2 separate regions of the Homo sapiens genome follow, and region 2 is linked to region 1. Evidence: fine-mapped expression QTL. Tissue or cell type: subcutaneous fat. Region 1 holds a variant in brackets; the other region holds the start of a gene. All regions are shown on one strand. Distances are from middle to middle.

Region 1 (6,569 bases):
CGGGTTGAGATTGTATTGACGGATGAAGGGGAATGACGGAAGAATTCCTGCGGTAAAGTGCTGTGAAGACACTCCTGTTTTAGAAAGAGCTCTCTAGCCGCAGCAAGGAGGATTAACTGGAGGCCCAAGGAGTAGTCTGGACTTTGGGGCAGTAACTTTAGGGGGGCCCTGAGGGAGAGCTGGTCGCGAGGACAGGGACAGCAGGCAGAGGTTGTGGCCCACAGGGCAATCGCAGGAGAGGTTGTGAATAATTCCCAGGTGATGAGTGTGCAGCTTTGAGGAATTTCAAAGGGTTGCTTGGCGTCTTTTCCTGAAGACACTTCTATAAGGTATTTAGAAATCTATCAGGAGTGAGAATCAGTCCAGTCAGAAAATTTTAGGCATTTGGGCAACTGCATTCAGAAAACAGCTATTTATTTGGAATGCATAATAAAAGCCATGAGACTGAATCTCCATGCCTCTTTGCCCCCTAGTAGCCTTCAAGAAGTCTCTAAAACAGGGTTACCACAGATTTAGCCAGGATGATGTGTAGCAGCTTTTCTTGGAACAGGTTGATGGATTAAAATAACTTTTTTTCAGCTCTAATGTTTTTTTCTTGAATTTGCCAGTCACATGATAATTTTCTTCAAAAATAAAACTTTATAATTGTAATGAGGAACTGTCATTTATTCTTATAAGTTGTATTTTTAGAAGTCACTGATGTGTCTTGCTACATATTTCAATTCAGGATCCAGAAGTGCTTTGAAAAATGTCATCTCCAGTATGCTAGAACACATCTTAATATTAAAAACAAGGCTTTGGCTTTTAAAACCATTATGCAGATACCAAATATATATGTAATCTGACATTTATACTGAAGGCCAGTAAGTAGAGGACAGTTGATCCTTGAACAACACAGGGGTTAGGAGTGCCAAGCCCCCAAAACGGTAGAAAATTTGAGTGTAACTTTTGACTCTCTAAAAATTTACTACTAATAGCTTACTGTTGACATGAAGCCCTACCAACAATATTAATAGTCGACTGACATGTATTTTGTGTGTTACATATATACTGTATTTTTACAATGAAGTAAGCTAGAGAAAAAATGTTAAGAAAAAGAAAAATAATATTATTAAGTGGAAATGGAATCATAAGGGTCTTCATCCTTGCCACCTTCATTTTGAGTAGGCTGAGGGGGAGGAGGAGAAGAAGGGATTGATCTTGCTGTCTTAGGGGTGGCAGAGATGGAAGAAAATCCCCGTTTAAGTGGACCTGTATAGTTCAACTCTGTGTTGCTGAAGGGTCAACTGTACTTTTAAGGTAACATCTCACAGTAGGATTTATTTCTAGTTAAGCAGATGCACAAATACTTAGATCTCTCATTTTTCCCAAACAGGTATCTAAACACCATTTTATAGATAGCTGTCTACTAAAACAATAAAAGCAAAACTTCTGTTTTCCTGTTTCAGTATATTATAAGAAACGTTTATTTATGAGATGGAGTCTCACTCTGTTGCTCAGGCTGGAGTGCAATGGCACAATCTTGGCTCACTGCAACCTCTGCTTCCGGGTTCAAGCAATTCTCCTGCCTCAGCCTCCCGAGTTGCTGGGACTACAGGCACGCGCCACCACGCCCAGATAATTTTTGTATTTTTAGTAGAGACAGGGTTTCACTATGTTAGCCAGGCTGGTCTCAAACCCCTGACCTCAGGCGATCCGCCCACCTCTGCCTCCCAGAGTGCTAGGATTACAGGCGTGAGCAACGGTGCCTGGCCACTGATTCTTATTTTTAAAAGTGACTTAACACAGCTTGTATTGTTCCTTCCAGGGAGAAGATAATTATAAACATTAAGGAAGGAGTGTTAATTATTGCTGATAACTTACACAGCGTAAGAATGAACTGTAAGGATCTTGTTTGAACAAAGAATTGTATTTTGATCAGTCTTTATACTACATCTTGATACAGTTCTTTTTTCTAAGCATCCACTGTAGAGGAAGAAAGTGGTTAAAATACCTATTAATGATTGCAACTTATAACATGGATAGGAGACAGTCTTCCTTCAAGCTTACCAAAGAATCTCCATGCCATTTTGAGTAGTTGAGACACAGCCTCTTATCCAGACAGAACTAGTTTTTTGTGTGATAGCTTACCTACCTAAACCTGTCCCAAGTTTGCTTAATGAAATTGAAACCACATGAAATATCCAAAGCAAACCTAATAAAGGTGTTCTGCCGCTGACTCGGGCTGGACCCTTGTGGGGCTGTATGTATGCGACTTGGTAGGTGTTTGCCTTAAGTAGTCTGTTCTGTGGGGCTGAAGCATAGGCCTGGCCATCTCAAAGCCTAACATCTGTCAGGCCCAGTCTGTGACGTCACTGACAAGGGTGAGCATTTTCTTTGGGGCACCTTCAAAGTACCTTCACTGTGCATCTCTTTGGAGTGAATAGCACTGAAAGCATGATGAACTGTTACTGCCATTCAAAATAACTTTCTAGCTAAAGGTCAGGACTTAAACTAAAGGTTCAATAGTAAGACATAGTTATGGTAGCAAATCTATTATTTATTAATCAGATGCCAAACTATGTATTCATGGAAACCTAAAATTTGATGTGTTAATACACATCTTTGCATAATCTTTAAAAATTATTAAGGCAATAATTGGAATTAACTTCTTTTCTTTACGTTTGCATGGGAAGGCCGTATTTAATATTTAAAAGCATACACCATTTTTGAGCCCTTTTGCAGAGCCTTTTTAGATATAAAAATTAATG[C/A]ACCAATTAAAATGTTTATTCCTCTAATCACGTTCTATTACACTGTAATAGAGTTAGCCTAGTCTGAGATATATGTATTTGGAATTAATAGAATTGAAATTTTCAATACTCTGAAGCTCTTACCTTTGAAGAATTCTAGCCATCACAATCCCATTCAACATAAATGAGAGTGGTTTCATACACAAATACAAAAACTGGGACTGTTCTGTTTTCATGTATGTACTATTTTCTCCATAAGTGATTAAAGGTTTACATGTGATTTAATATTTAAACTTTGGTAAGATTTTTCATAGAAACAAGGAAAAATTTCCTTTGTCCGTGTACATATACAAAATTTGTTTGGTAAGCAGGGTTATCCTAAGTGGATACAAAGAGCTTCATCTAAATTAGAAATTTAGTCTCCAGTCATACTTATGACTCAGCAGGAGCCAATAAAATAAAAAAGGATTAAAATGTCTGAATTTTTAATTCAAGATGTTTTGTTCCAGAAATCAGAAAAATCACAGCCTCTGTATCTGGTATTCTGTCTGCTGGGCATCTCATGGAGTGACATTTCCGTACCCTCCAGTAGGAGAACAACAGATTCCCATACAACCTCTGCACATACTGAAAGTTCTTGACGTATGTTCTGAGCCATCAAAATAATCTCTATGCTGTGTAGATTGAAAAGTTGATAATAATCCATTCACAGTAGACAGGTTAACTCTACACCTAGAAAAACTCATTTCCTGACCATGCGATTAAGAGAACAAAACTACGATTTATTAGCTATACATAGTAAAATATGATTTTATCTGAAAAGGTGCAGGAAGTTTAAAAAGGAAAAAGGATCAAAAATGATGTGCCAGCGTGACACTGAAGTGGTCTGCAAAGTCCCCATCTGCATATTTGACCTGCACGCCCCAGGGTGGCTGATCCCTGTCTGAGGGTGTCAGCTAGACGCAGAGTGGATGATGCTGGTGGATTCTAAAGGAAGGTGTCATCTGTCAGGGACAAGGAGCCATGGTTATGCCACACAGCTGGTACCCAAAGGGGACTTCTGCTTTCCTTAGAAGAGGGTTGAAGAAAGGGTTGGTTAAAAAGTGAGATAAAAAGTAGCAGTGCGCCACACACTTTAACCTTGTGTGTTCTGAGCCACGAGTGTTATTTTTCAGATTGATGAGAGAATCAGCACGTGGTGTTCAAGCCTCAGCGGATAATGCCAACAGCTGCTTCATCCGGACAAAGTGATCTCTTTAATCACGTTTTTAAGAAGAAAGTACAGTGTGCACTTTGACAAAAATATTGCAGATTATGAAACGTGACTTTTAACATAAAAACAATTTGGGCAGTACAATAAATGCAAAACGTGCTGAGACTCGTACTGTGTTTGTCTACAGTTTTTATGTAAATCAATACCCTCACCGCCCAGATAAAACAGTACACCCCACCATAAAGCTGAGCAAAAGCTGAAAGAAATCTCTTCACAGACATTTTGTGAGCATATACACAAAACACATGCTTTTAAAAGTATTAGACTTTGAAGCCAATTTCTAGTTTGCTCATTGACATAACTGTTCCCAACAGTCTCCTCTCAGCATTACATATAAAGTAATAAACCCCGACTTTTCATTTATAGGTAGTTCAAATCAAATTTTGTTACAACCAACACCAAAGACCTATCAAAGATCCACAGTCACATTGGAACTTTGGTTGGATCAAGTGTTGTTTGGACGAACGAAAGCCTTTACAAAGGGCTACGGCTCTCTCTACTACAGAAATTTAGATTGTGACAATATTTAGATTGTGAAAATATTTAGTCAATACTCTCATAATGACTAGTGACTAGAATTTAAGAATTACAAAAAGAGGAAAGTATAGAAAAAAAGCTAAAGTCAAATTTATTTTTATTGCCTTTGTCATTCAACAAACAAAAAAAATTTAAACTGATAATAATTAAGATTTAAGTTTTCCTTTATACATAGTCATCCAAATTCTGTATGGATGAATTACTGAAAGCGGAATTTGGTCTACCTGCTTAACAAGAAGCAATATAAACATTTTCATGTTTTCTCCTTCAGTTCCAGAAAGTTAAACTCTTTATAATAGTTATAAACATAGGAAACTGGGAAAAATTAGGAAATTTATTCTTTAAGGTCACTTTCAATTTCTGTTGCTTTTCAGATTTCATACTGTAGCTTTTCTGAAACCTGATTTTTGGCATTCTCAAAAATCTACATCACATTTCTTGAATCATGTTATTATCATAAAATTTTATGTCAGTTTTAATTTGTGTTAAGCAGAATAAATGTATTTTTATATAAATATTTTCATTTAAAATAGAGATTTTTGGCACAGAGTCCTAAGCCTGTAGTTTTCAAATTGCATTCTGTGCTACTTTCCCTGAATCAAGGAATTGTGCTCCTATGAACTTGTACCTTGTGTATCTAACCTTTGCTCTGTCTCATGCTCAACAATCCAGCAGTATTCTAAGACTTTAGAACATGAGAAAAAAGTGTAGATTGACTTCTCCTTGCTGGTGGAGGTGGAGAAGGGGTGGAGAACAACTGCTGAGGATTTTTGTCTTAATATTTTCATGTTCTCCTCCTGATAATACTGTAGGCACTTGCATCCTTTGGGGTATCTTCAGTGGGAAATCAAAGGACTGTGAGTGGCTTCATTTAATTTCTACACTCAGAAATGCAGAGGCATGTTCCAGTCAAGTTTTAAAGAATTATTTAGAAAAAAAAAACAGGCCAATAAAATCTACAGTTAAGAGATAGAGAATCAAATATTAATCTTGAATGCTTATGTTCCACTTCTTTTCTTTCTGCTGTACTTTTAAAAAGTACTCTAATGAGTAGAATTCAATTTTATATGAAAATTCTGAGTTACTATATTATCGAATGGGGAGAGGTAACAAATTACAGACTAGTGCAAAACAGTAGGACTCCCACATTCTCCAAAGTGCTTCCTGAATAATATTCAAAACTTGATATCTCATCAACTTGTGCAATGTTAGAATATTGTGTCTACAAACTTTCTTCTTTGTCTGCTTGGAGCCTCTAACCTGGAGGCTCAAAATTCAAACAACACTCTACAGAAAAATTCTACTGAAGCAGGTGATCATAGATCAGCATAGATCACCTGCCTCCTCCTCCTAGTATTGCACAACATAAAACCCACCAGCAAGTTGTAACCAGGTGCTGCCCTGTGGCCCTACTTGCCACATGGACCCTCATGGGTGGAACTTCATCAAAAGCTGCTCCCAAATCTGTCAACACAGTAAGCTGGTGGATGTCTGGGCAACCTTTCTCTCTGCACCATTTAAACAAGAAGAAGAAATGGAATTTAGATGTCACCCCCAAACACACAGTAGACAGAGGAACAAGTTAAAAACCAGTAGACTCTCAGTAGTTCATAGGAGTTCTGGGGCCTCCAATCTGCACTGCAGGAGTCAGGCCATTCCTTCTGCATGACGTTCCGATTGTTTGCCCAGTTTGAGTCATAAGGTGTCTCTGCTTCCAGCTGTGCTCTTCACTTACCGGCTGCTCCATCGGGTCAGGACAGGGAAAAGCTTCCACGCTGAGCTTAGGAGTCACCCCCGAGCGCCATCCTTCACCCCTGGGAAAGAAAGCTGTTCTCGATACTTTTAGTGCCATTCACTTAACAACTGATTACAGATATACATATTTTTTCATAAATAAAATTTGAAGCATATAAGTAATATATTAAAATCTTCACCAAGAAGGATGTGTTAAAAATTTCAAGTTCTGTCATTCAAGTTCAATAAAGGCACACATTACCATTTTTTCTCTTCAGGCCAGCAAATAATACGAT
Region 2 (7,877 bases), 23 kb before region 1:
TTGCAAGTCATACATAATAAATCCACTCTGACATTGTCATTTTTCCAAAACTTTTGGAGTCCTTTATCCACATTTTGCCAGGAAAACTCTGGCATCTGAACATCATTAAATATAGGCCATCTTTGAGTCTAAATTTCAACCAACTGACTAAACTACTAGAGCTGCCTCCAGCTGCACAAGCTAACATATTACATCGGTATATGTTGTAAATGCATCTATACTAGTGAATTCTGCCTAATTTAGTGTTATATTATTCCCTTTTTTTGTCTGACACCCTTAGAAATCTCTCCCCCAGGTTTCTAAAGTTTACATTGATTATATATTAGCAGAGACTTCCAAATCTTTTATTATTATTATTTTTACACAGAGTCTCCCTCTGTTGCCAGGCTGGAGTGCAGTGGGGCGATCTCAGCTCACTGCAACCTCTGCCTCCCGGGTTCAAGCTCTCCTGCCTCAGCCTCCCAAGTAGCTGGGACTACAGGCGCGCACCACCACGCCCAGCTAAATTTTTTGTATTTTTAGTAGAGACAGGGTTTCACCATGTTGGCCAGGATAGTCTCGATCTCTTGACCTTGTGATCTGCCCACCCTGGCTTCCCAAAGTCCTGGGATTACAGGTGTGAGCCACCGCGCCTGGCCGTGACTTCCAATTCTTTTGGCGTGTATGAGATGTCCTCCTAGGTTATAATGTGTACCTGTCACCAGAGCATGCTAAAATTTCACCCTAGCTATGTATTTAGTAGCCACAGTGAGTGGTTTTAATGGGTTAACATGAGCAGCCCTTTCAAGGCGCCTTTCCCAGATGAGTTACTCACAAAATTTCAAGCACAAAAAGACTAGTTTCCTCAGCTATAGGAGAGCAAACTAGTTCTCCTGCAAAGGAGTCTCAGAATAACTTGGGGGTTCACGATTGACAGTTTCACCTGGATTCAATTATATGTCTTAATTCTAAGTATCAGTATTCCACTTCTCCCTATTCAGTGCCACCTCCCATGAGAAACTTTGCAACACTGAATTTAACAGATCTCAGAATTAGCAACCTACACAAGTAAATTGAGATTTTGAGCAAAATCTCAGTAAAATGTCAGAGTCTTCTTGATCCCACAGTGAAAGAGGAATAAATAACAAGTTCTAAAGAAAAGAGGGGCTAGTCACTATTGTTAACATTTATTACTTACCATGTGTCATGGGCTTTGCTAAGTAATTTAAAGGCATCTTTTGGTGTCATGCACTCACTTAATTCCTTTCACTGCACTCAGAATAAACCCCAAATCTCTGTTATGGCCTTCTGGGTCCTAAATGGTCTGCACTCCTGCTGACCTCTCAGTTTGATGAGGAAGTTTCAGCCACACATATCTTCTTTCCACTCTTCTCAGCTTACATGTCACCTCCTCCAAACTGCTTTTCTAAAGTAGCTCACTCCCCACCTCATTACTTTCCACATCAAGACCGTGCTTCTTTATATTATCACCATATTATTTTACTTATTTTATGCTTTTTCATTGCATGTTTAGTATTTTTATTTATGTTTATTTACTGCGTGCTTATTATTTTTACTCCATGAGACTGTAATCTCAACTCAGGCATAGACCATCTATGGTTTGTTCACATTGCACTGCACCAGAAAGGATCTTAAGAAGCATGTGTAGAATTCTCACACCTCTAGAAGTTGGACTACATTATTTCCTACTGCTTTTTAAATAGGCAAACGAAAGCTTGGAGAGCCACGTTAACGTATCCTAGGTCTGTCACAACCAACTGGTGGCCAGGGTCTGTGGATCTTCAAGCTGGAGTTGGTCACCTCCTAGCACAACTCCATAGGAGGAAGTGAAGCTCAATACAATTCCCTCCTGTCCTCCAACGATAGGGGCAGCAGGGTCTGTACCCAGAGGAAACAAAGAGCATCATCATTATCATCACAAACTGGTGTGTGCTTACCGTATTGATGATGTGCCCAGTCCCCACCTTGCCTGAGACCAGAACTCCCAGCCAGCACCGGCCACGCACCCGCGGAGCTGCCAGGTAGCACCCGCCCCCTCTCTCTGCGCAGGCGCGCGCCTCCTGCTTCCGCTCGGGGCGGGGCTGGGCTCCCGGGGTAGGTCCGCGGCTGCTGCTGCGTCCGACCCCCGGCCGGCGCGGGTATGGAGCTTGGGGGTCACTGGGACATGAACTCGGCCCCGAGGCTGGTCTCGGAGACCGCAGAGCGGAAACAGGAGCAGAAGACAGGAACCGAGGCGGAGGCTGCCGACTCCGGTGCCGTCGGAGCCCGCCGCTTCCTGCTCTGTCTCTACTTGGTGGGCTTCTTGGTGAGTGCGAGCGTGGGGGCTGGGAGCAAGTGCTGACTGTGTTCGGGCCTGGGGACCCAGGCGGTTCTTGGAGCTTCCGGGGAGCTCCCAGGGAGTGGGAACCCGCAGTCCGCCTGGTGAGTGCCTCACTACCTATCAAGCTCTCCTCTTGCCCTATCACCCACTTCAGTCTGCATCTGGCCACACTGCTTTATTGCCCCTCGCGCTTTCTCTTGCACCCCGTTCGCGGAACGTCTTCCCTTCCCTGCCTTTTGAGAAGCCCTGGTACCAACCTCAGGTGTGACCAGGTGTTAAATGCTGTGGCAGGTGCAGCTTTTGCAGGGCGGAGAACAGGGGTGTGGGCAAGCTTGGAAAAGCCCAGCTGCTGTGCGGCTGCTGGTGAGGTAGGGACACGCAAGCCTTTTTACCAGAACAGGCAGGGGAGGCCGCTCTTGACCCCGCTTGGACAGATTTAGGCACATTTTCACTAGGATTCTTGGTTGACTTAAATATTAAAAAATGCAGATCAGAGTGAATTTTACCCATCTGCCTTTCGACAAACTGCGCATTGCACAGCGTAGGTTTGGTTTCATCATGATGTGTGTGCCTGTGGTTTGCTTTTTTACCAGACCAGGCTGGAGAAGCCGCTGTTGATGACCCCACTTGTACAGAATTGGGTGCATTTTCACTAGAGCTCTCGGTTGACTTGAATGTTTAAAAATGCAGATCAGAGTGAATTGTACCCATCTACCTTTGGACAAAGGGTGTGCATTGCACAATGGCGGTTTGGTTTCATCGTGTGTGTGTGTGTGTGTGTGTGCGCGCGCGCGTGTCCTGGTTTGCTCCCTGAGTGCTAATTTCCCACGTAGAATGGAAAGTTTAGTAAGCTGATTCATGGCATTTCTGAACACCTGCCATGTGGCAGGTGCTGCGGAGCTTCACTATTGTAATCCACAGTTCTGCCACAGAAGAATTCAGTCTTACAAGTAAGCTGATGTTGGTAGTTTCTGGGCCATTATCTGCAAGAACCCTAGATCCACCTCTGCACTCCTCCCTTTCCAAGGCTAGGCCTGATTCAGCCCTGAGTGTGAGCTAATCCAGTATCTTGAGGGTAAGGAAGCTGCGATAAGTGTCAATGGGAGAAGGCTGCCTTTGAGGCCTTGAAGATAGTATCTGATGGCACTGGGCCCTGGCAGGGAGTCATCGTTTTCTGCCCAGATGCAGATCAAGACCACCACTTCTCCCAGTTTCATGCACTCTCCATGCCACCACCTCCATGCAAGGCGTTCAGTTGGTAGCAACTCTATGTTGAGTTAATAGTTAAGATCACCATGAAAGCATGTTCATCAAATTGCTGCAAGCCCAGAAACACAAGGTCTTCAGGGAGGGCGGCTTTTTAGAGAGGATTTCTCTGCCTCTAGGCCATTGCAGGATCCACCCTCCAGCTCCATGCCTTTAACTTCAGAGACTGGCACTCCTTCTGACCACTATTCCTTTAATCTAGTAGTTCATTCTCAGCATGGGGATGCTTCTTCTACTTTTCAGTCTAGGCACCTAGAATTCACAACCAGTGAGTATGGGTGGTTCTTGGAGAGGAGTTGGCTGACATCCAGCCTTTTTAGTTATGGGTCCCAAGCTACTGCTGTCCTGTCTCAGAAGGGACTTGGGCTGGTTCAGCCAGATGAAAACATTTGAGCCCTTACCTGGAAAGTCCAGACTAGGGTTCAGAGAATTTGACTTAGAATTCAAAGTAGTTTTAGTATTAGAATAAAACAAAGCAATTCGCAGATCATTTGTTAAGGTCAGCCTTCCAATACAGATTTGAATATTCACAATTTATCATATGTTTTCTTTATGCTGTGTATTTGGCAAGTCTAATCTAGCAAGCCTGATACAGAATTTTAATAACTTTAATAATGTATTCAAGAGAACCATTAGGTGTCTCATATCTTAAGGGAAAAGTTTATGGTTTCCCAAAAGTTGAAAGAGTAGGGATTTTTTTAATGGAAAATATTGTAAACAATTAAATATATGAAGCTTTACATGAAAGTCACATAAAGCTACCTAACAGATGATTGTTAGGTAACATCTAAGGAACATTATACATAATTTAGTTTTTTTTTGACATATTTAGGGATGTAGAGACCTCTAAGATTCTTGGACAAATGGTTTCTGAATGGGAGAGGAAGGGAACAAGCTTAGAGAAGTCATTTGCCAAATTGTTCTGTTTTAGCAGTTATCCGTACTTCCAAGTTTTAATTTGTTTAGGAGGGAAGACCAAGATGACCCTTGAGGCCCGTTTTGTTTAGGATGCTTAGATGGTGATGAGATCTATTATTTCAACCACTTTTTTCCTCCAGATACTTGGTGAGATTTGTTTTCCATCCCATCAGCTTTATTCAGGTGATAATTCATTTTCATTGAGATAGTCCAGTAATCAATAATTACTGGGGTTCCTACCCTGAAAAGAGTCTTGAAACTTTTGAGTGTACATATTCATCAATTTTTATTGAAAAATGTTGATATTCAGTGAAAGTTTAAGTGGCCCCTTCTGACATGATCTTTTTACAAGTGGTTACATGCACATGACCAGATGCCAAATGCAGCGATTTTGAAGAAGCTATGGATTGAGAAGCAGAAAGGAGTTGCCTTTTATAGTAAAGGAGAAGGCAATTTTAGAACAGAACTTCCTGAGAGGAAAGATTCAGTGGCCAGTCTCCTTGGAAGAATATAGTACTTTTCAGACTCACCAAGTGCTAAAGTAATACCAATCATCAGTTATTGCCTTTGAGTCTGTATTTTCATACTTACCTTCCATAGAGCTCAGTCTCTTGACCTAAATATTTCTCTCCATCTCTTATTTAGGATACCCATTTTATTAAATGATATGTTGTACTGGGACTTTTTTTTTTTGGAAAAAAATGGTTATTGGACAATTGAGTTTCCTTTTCTGAAAGATCCAGAAGATTCAATAGGTGGCTGGTACATTTTGAGTCTTTTAAATGTGTAAACATCAGTGGGCTGATGAGATGCAACTGACAGCAAAGCCCAAAAGAAATGGACTCAGACCCAAAGGAAATTTTAAGTAATGGCAATATTGAAATAATAAACCATCACTCTGGTAATGTAATTTTAAGAGCTAATTATAGTCACTTGATATTAGATAACAGGGTCATCTAAAGATGTAACCATGGAAAAGGCCCACTGAAAAGAGTATGTGGAAATTTATGTATCTATAGTTATATGAATGTACAGCTACCAGGACAGGGAAGGGGGAACAAAAGATTAACTCTGAGCTCAAGGAAAATACATATTTCATGCGAGTTCTTTCTTTCCAACTAACCAGCTGTATGAAAGAAGGAATTCAGGTCGAATATAATGAAAACTGTGTGTGTGCAATGTTTTTTCTCCCACTAAACCAACTGTAGCAGGTAACCTAGTGAGAATAAGAACAAAATTAAAAGAAAAGTTAACAGTCTGTCTATTAACTCAGAATACCTAGCAAAAAGGACCTGTCCTTATCCCCAGAACTGAAGAAGGGAGAAGACATGTTTGAGCTTACATTGTTTTATTAGGCCTTTCTCAAGCATTATGCCACTTAATGCTCATCATATTTCTACCAGGCAGGTATTACTGTTCTACCCTTTGCAGATGACAGCACGGAAGCTTGGTAACTTTAAGTAGCTTTCCAAAGACACATGTTTAGTAAGTGATGGAGGTGGAATTGAGAACTGTCTGCCTGACCCCAAAGCCCATTCACTTTCTATGACTTAGCTGCAAAACACTGGCCTTTCCCTAGTGCACCAGCTTCTTCCTTCTTGCTTTACTGAGCCTTTCTTCTCAGGTATTATTTTATAAGCTTATAAACTACAGGTCCTAGGACATTAGCCACTTTCGCCAACTCCAGAAGGAAACATATTTTTAAGCAAGTGCTGGTTCACCAATAAATACAAATTATGACTGCATTTTTTCTTATGACTTATCCACAGAAAATATGGGGTTTTTTGTCTGTTTTGTTTGAGGAACTTCTGTAGCATATCCTCCTTGAGTGTAAAGTTAAAACGGATCCCAGGTCAGACTAATCCAGGCATTTGCAAGTGGCAGCGGATTTGTATGGCATGCTATGGAATCCAATTATGATTTCTTACGTGTTTAAAATTTTAGATATTGGTTTTATTTTTTAAATTAGTTTAAATTTTTAGGTTTACTAGTTTGAAAAATACTAATTTGAGTCCATCAGCATTTATTTTGTTTTAGGATTTGTTTGGTGTCAGCATGGTTGTGCCTTTATTGAGCCTTCATGTCAAGTCCCTTGGAGCAAGTCCAACAGTTGCTGGAATAGTAGGTGAGTGGTCGATATTGCTCATTTTTAGAGCACTGAATTTTAAATCCTCTGAACCAAGTACCTGAAAACAATTCAATTTTGTATCCAAATATTATCCAAAGGTAAGTGGGAAATGAGATAAAACAAATTTCCAGAATATTTTAAAATATTACCCTATAGCAAATGCAATTCCTTTTTTTCTAGACGACGTATGTTCAAAGAGATTTTGAGATTTGAGCACTATAACCAAGTCCCATGCCACTAGTGGCAACAGGTACTTATGGAGCCTCTGCAAGGAGCTGGCTGTGTGTATAAAAGGGTAGGTACATGTGGACTCCTGCCTACAGGAACCCTTAACCTAATGTGAGAGACCAGGGAAACATAATCTACAGAAATCACATCTCGTGGGAAAGGGTTTCGGTGAACATTAGCCAATTAGTTGCAAGCTTCTCACACCGTCACCAACACATCATAGATATTGTAGAGTTTCTCTGCCTGTGCAGCTTAAAAATTCCATCCAGAAGTCATTGATTTACCAAAAAGGCAAGAGACAGCAGGGCTTAGGACTATGCTAACTAATGGGAAATTGTTGAGACTAACAGCTCTTGATCATTCACAAGCCAAACAAGCAAGTGTTTGTGGACAGTCTTGTACATAATATTTGTTAAATCATGGTCCATGCCGTGATTTGTATTTCCCTCGACAAATGTACTTGGAATTACACTGGACCACCCAGCAGTGTGAAGGTTTTTGGGAAAATCAGATAGGGCACATTGCATGATAATGGAGGTAAAAGAGCTCTGTAAAAAAAATATAAATTCTTTATAAAATAAATCATTTTATAAAACCAGTACACATTAGAAATATAAGAGACAATGTTAAGATTTTAAGGCTTAGTAGGGTTTTTCCAGAATTTAAATTTCTATTCCCCTGAGTACTCTCTATGCTGTTTCATAAGTTGAAGCTACACAATCTCATATGATGGAAGGACAATCATACAGCGTCCATAACGTCACCTTTTGCCTTTTTTCTCTCTTCTGTTTACCCTCAATTTTTTGAAAACCTTTTGTTAGAAATTGTATTACTTCCATTTTGTTAGAAATTGTATTACTTCCATTTTTCCAAGTAGAAAAAAAAAAGATGTGAGATAATTTAAAACAAAAAGGTATCTTACCCTAATGTTTTTCTGTTGGTTTCTGTGTAATTGTTATCACATTAATCCATTTTTGTGATAGCTCTAGCTGATTTTATTGTTATTGATTTGTTTTT

Which allele goes with the higher level. Positions count from the first base shown, and alleles are read on the strand shown. Sizes are in standard deviations (SD) of each study's normalised expression.
For the expression in subcutaneous fat of the gene that starts at base 2,063 in region 2, allele C in region 1 goes with a higher level than allele A (small effect, 0.17 SD a copy in GTEx).

Evidence for each region. PIP is the estimated chance that this variant, and not a neighbour inherited with it, causes the effect.
Region 2: it holds the start of SLC67A2, and the variant in region 1 is the best candidate, but not a certain one, in a credible set for the expression of SLC67A2 in subcutaneous fat (GTEx, PIP 0.51).

What each region holds. Positions count from the first base shown.
Region 1 is chr2:102,708,712-102,715,280 of GRCh38, reverse strand. SLC9A2 (solute carrier family 9 member A2) reads right to left here. Exons shown (of 12, transcript NM_003048.6): 12 at 3,926-6,569. It overlaps SLC67A2 (solute carrier family 67 member 2), which reads left to right. Exons shown (of 6, transcript NM_032718.5): 6 at 1-651. Among named protein-coding and RNA genes, the nearest start is that of SLC67A2, 25 kb to the left of the region's middle. RefSeq lists an enhancer at 6,487-6,569. The variant C/A (reference allele first, on the strand shown) is at 2,751.
Region 2 is chr2:102,731,074-102,738,950 of GRCh38, reverse strand. SLC67A2 (solute carrier family 67 member 2) reads left to right here and starts at 2,063. Exons shown (of 6, transcript NM_032718.5): 1 at 2,063-2,305; 2 at 6,542-6,629. The coding sequence starts at 2,141. It also overlaps a transcript of TMEM182 not described here. RefSeq lists a silencer at 1,947-2,156.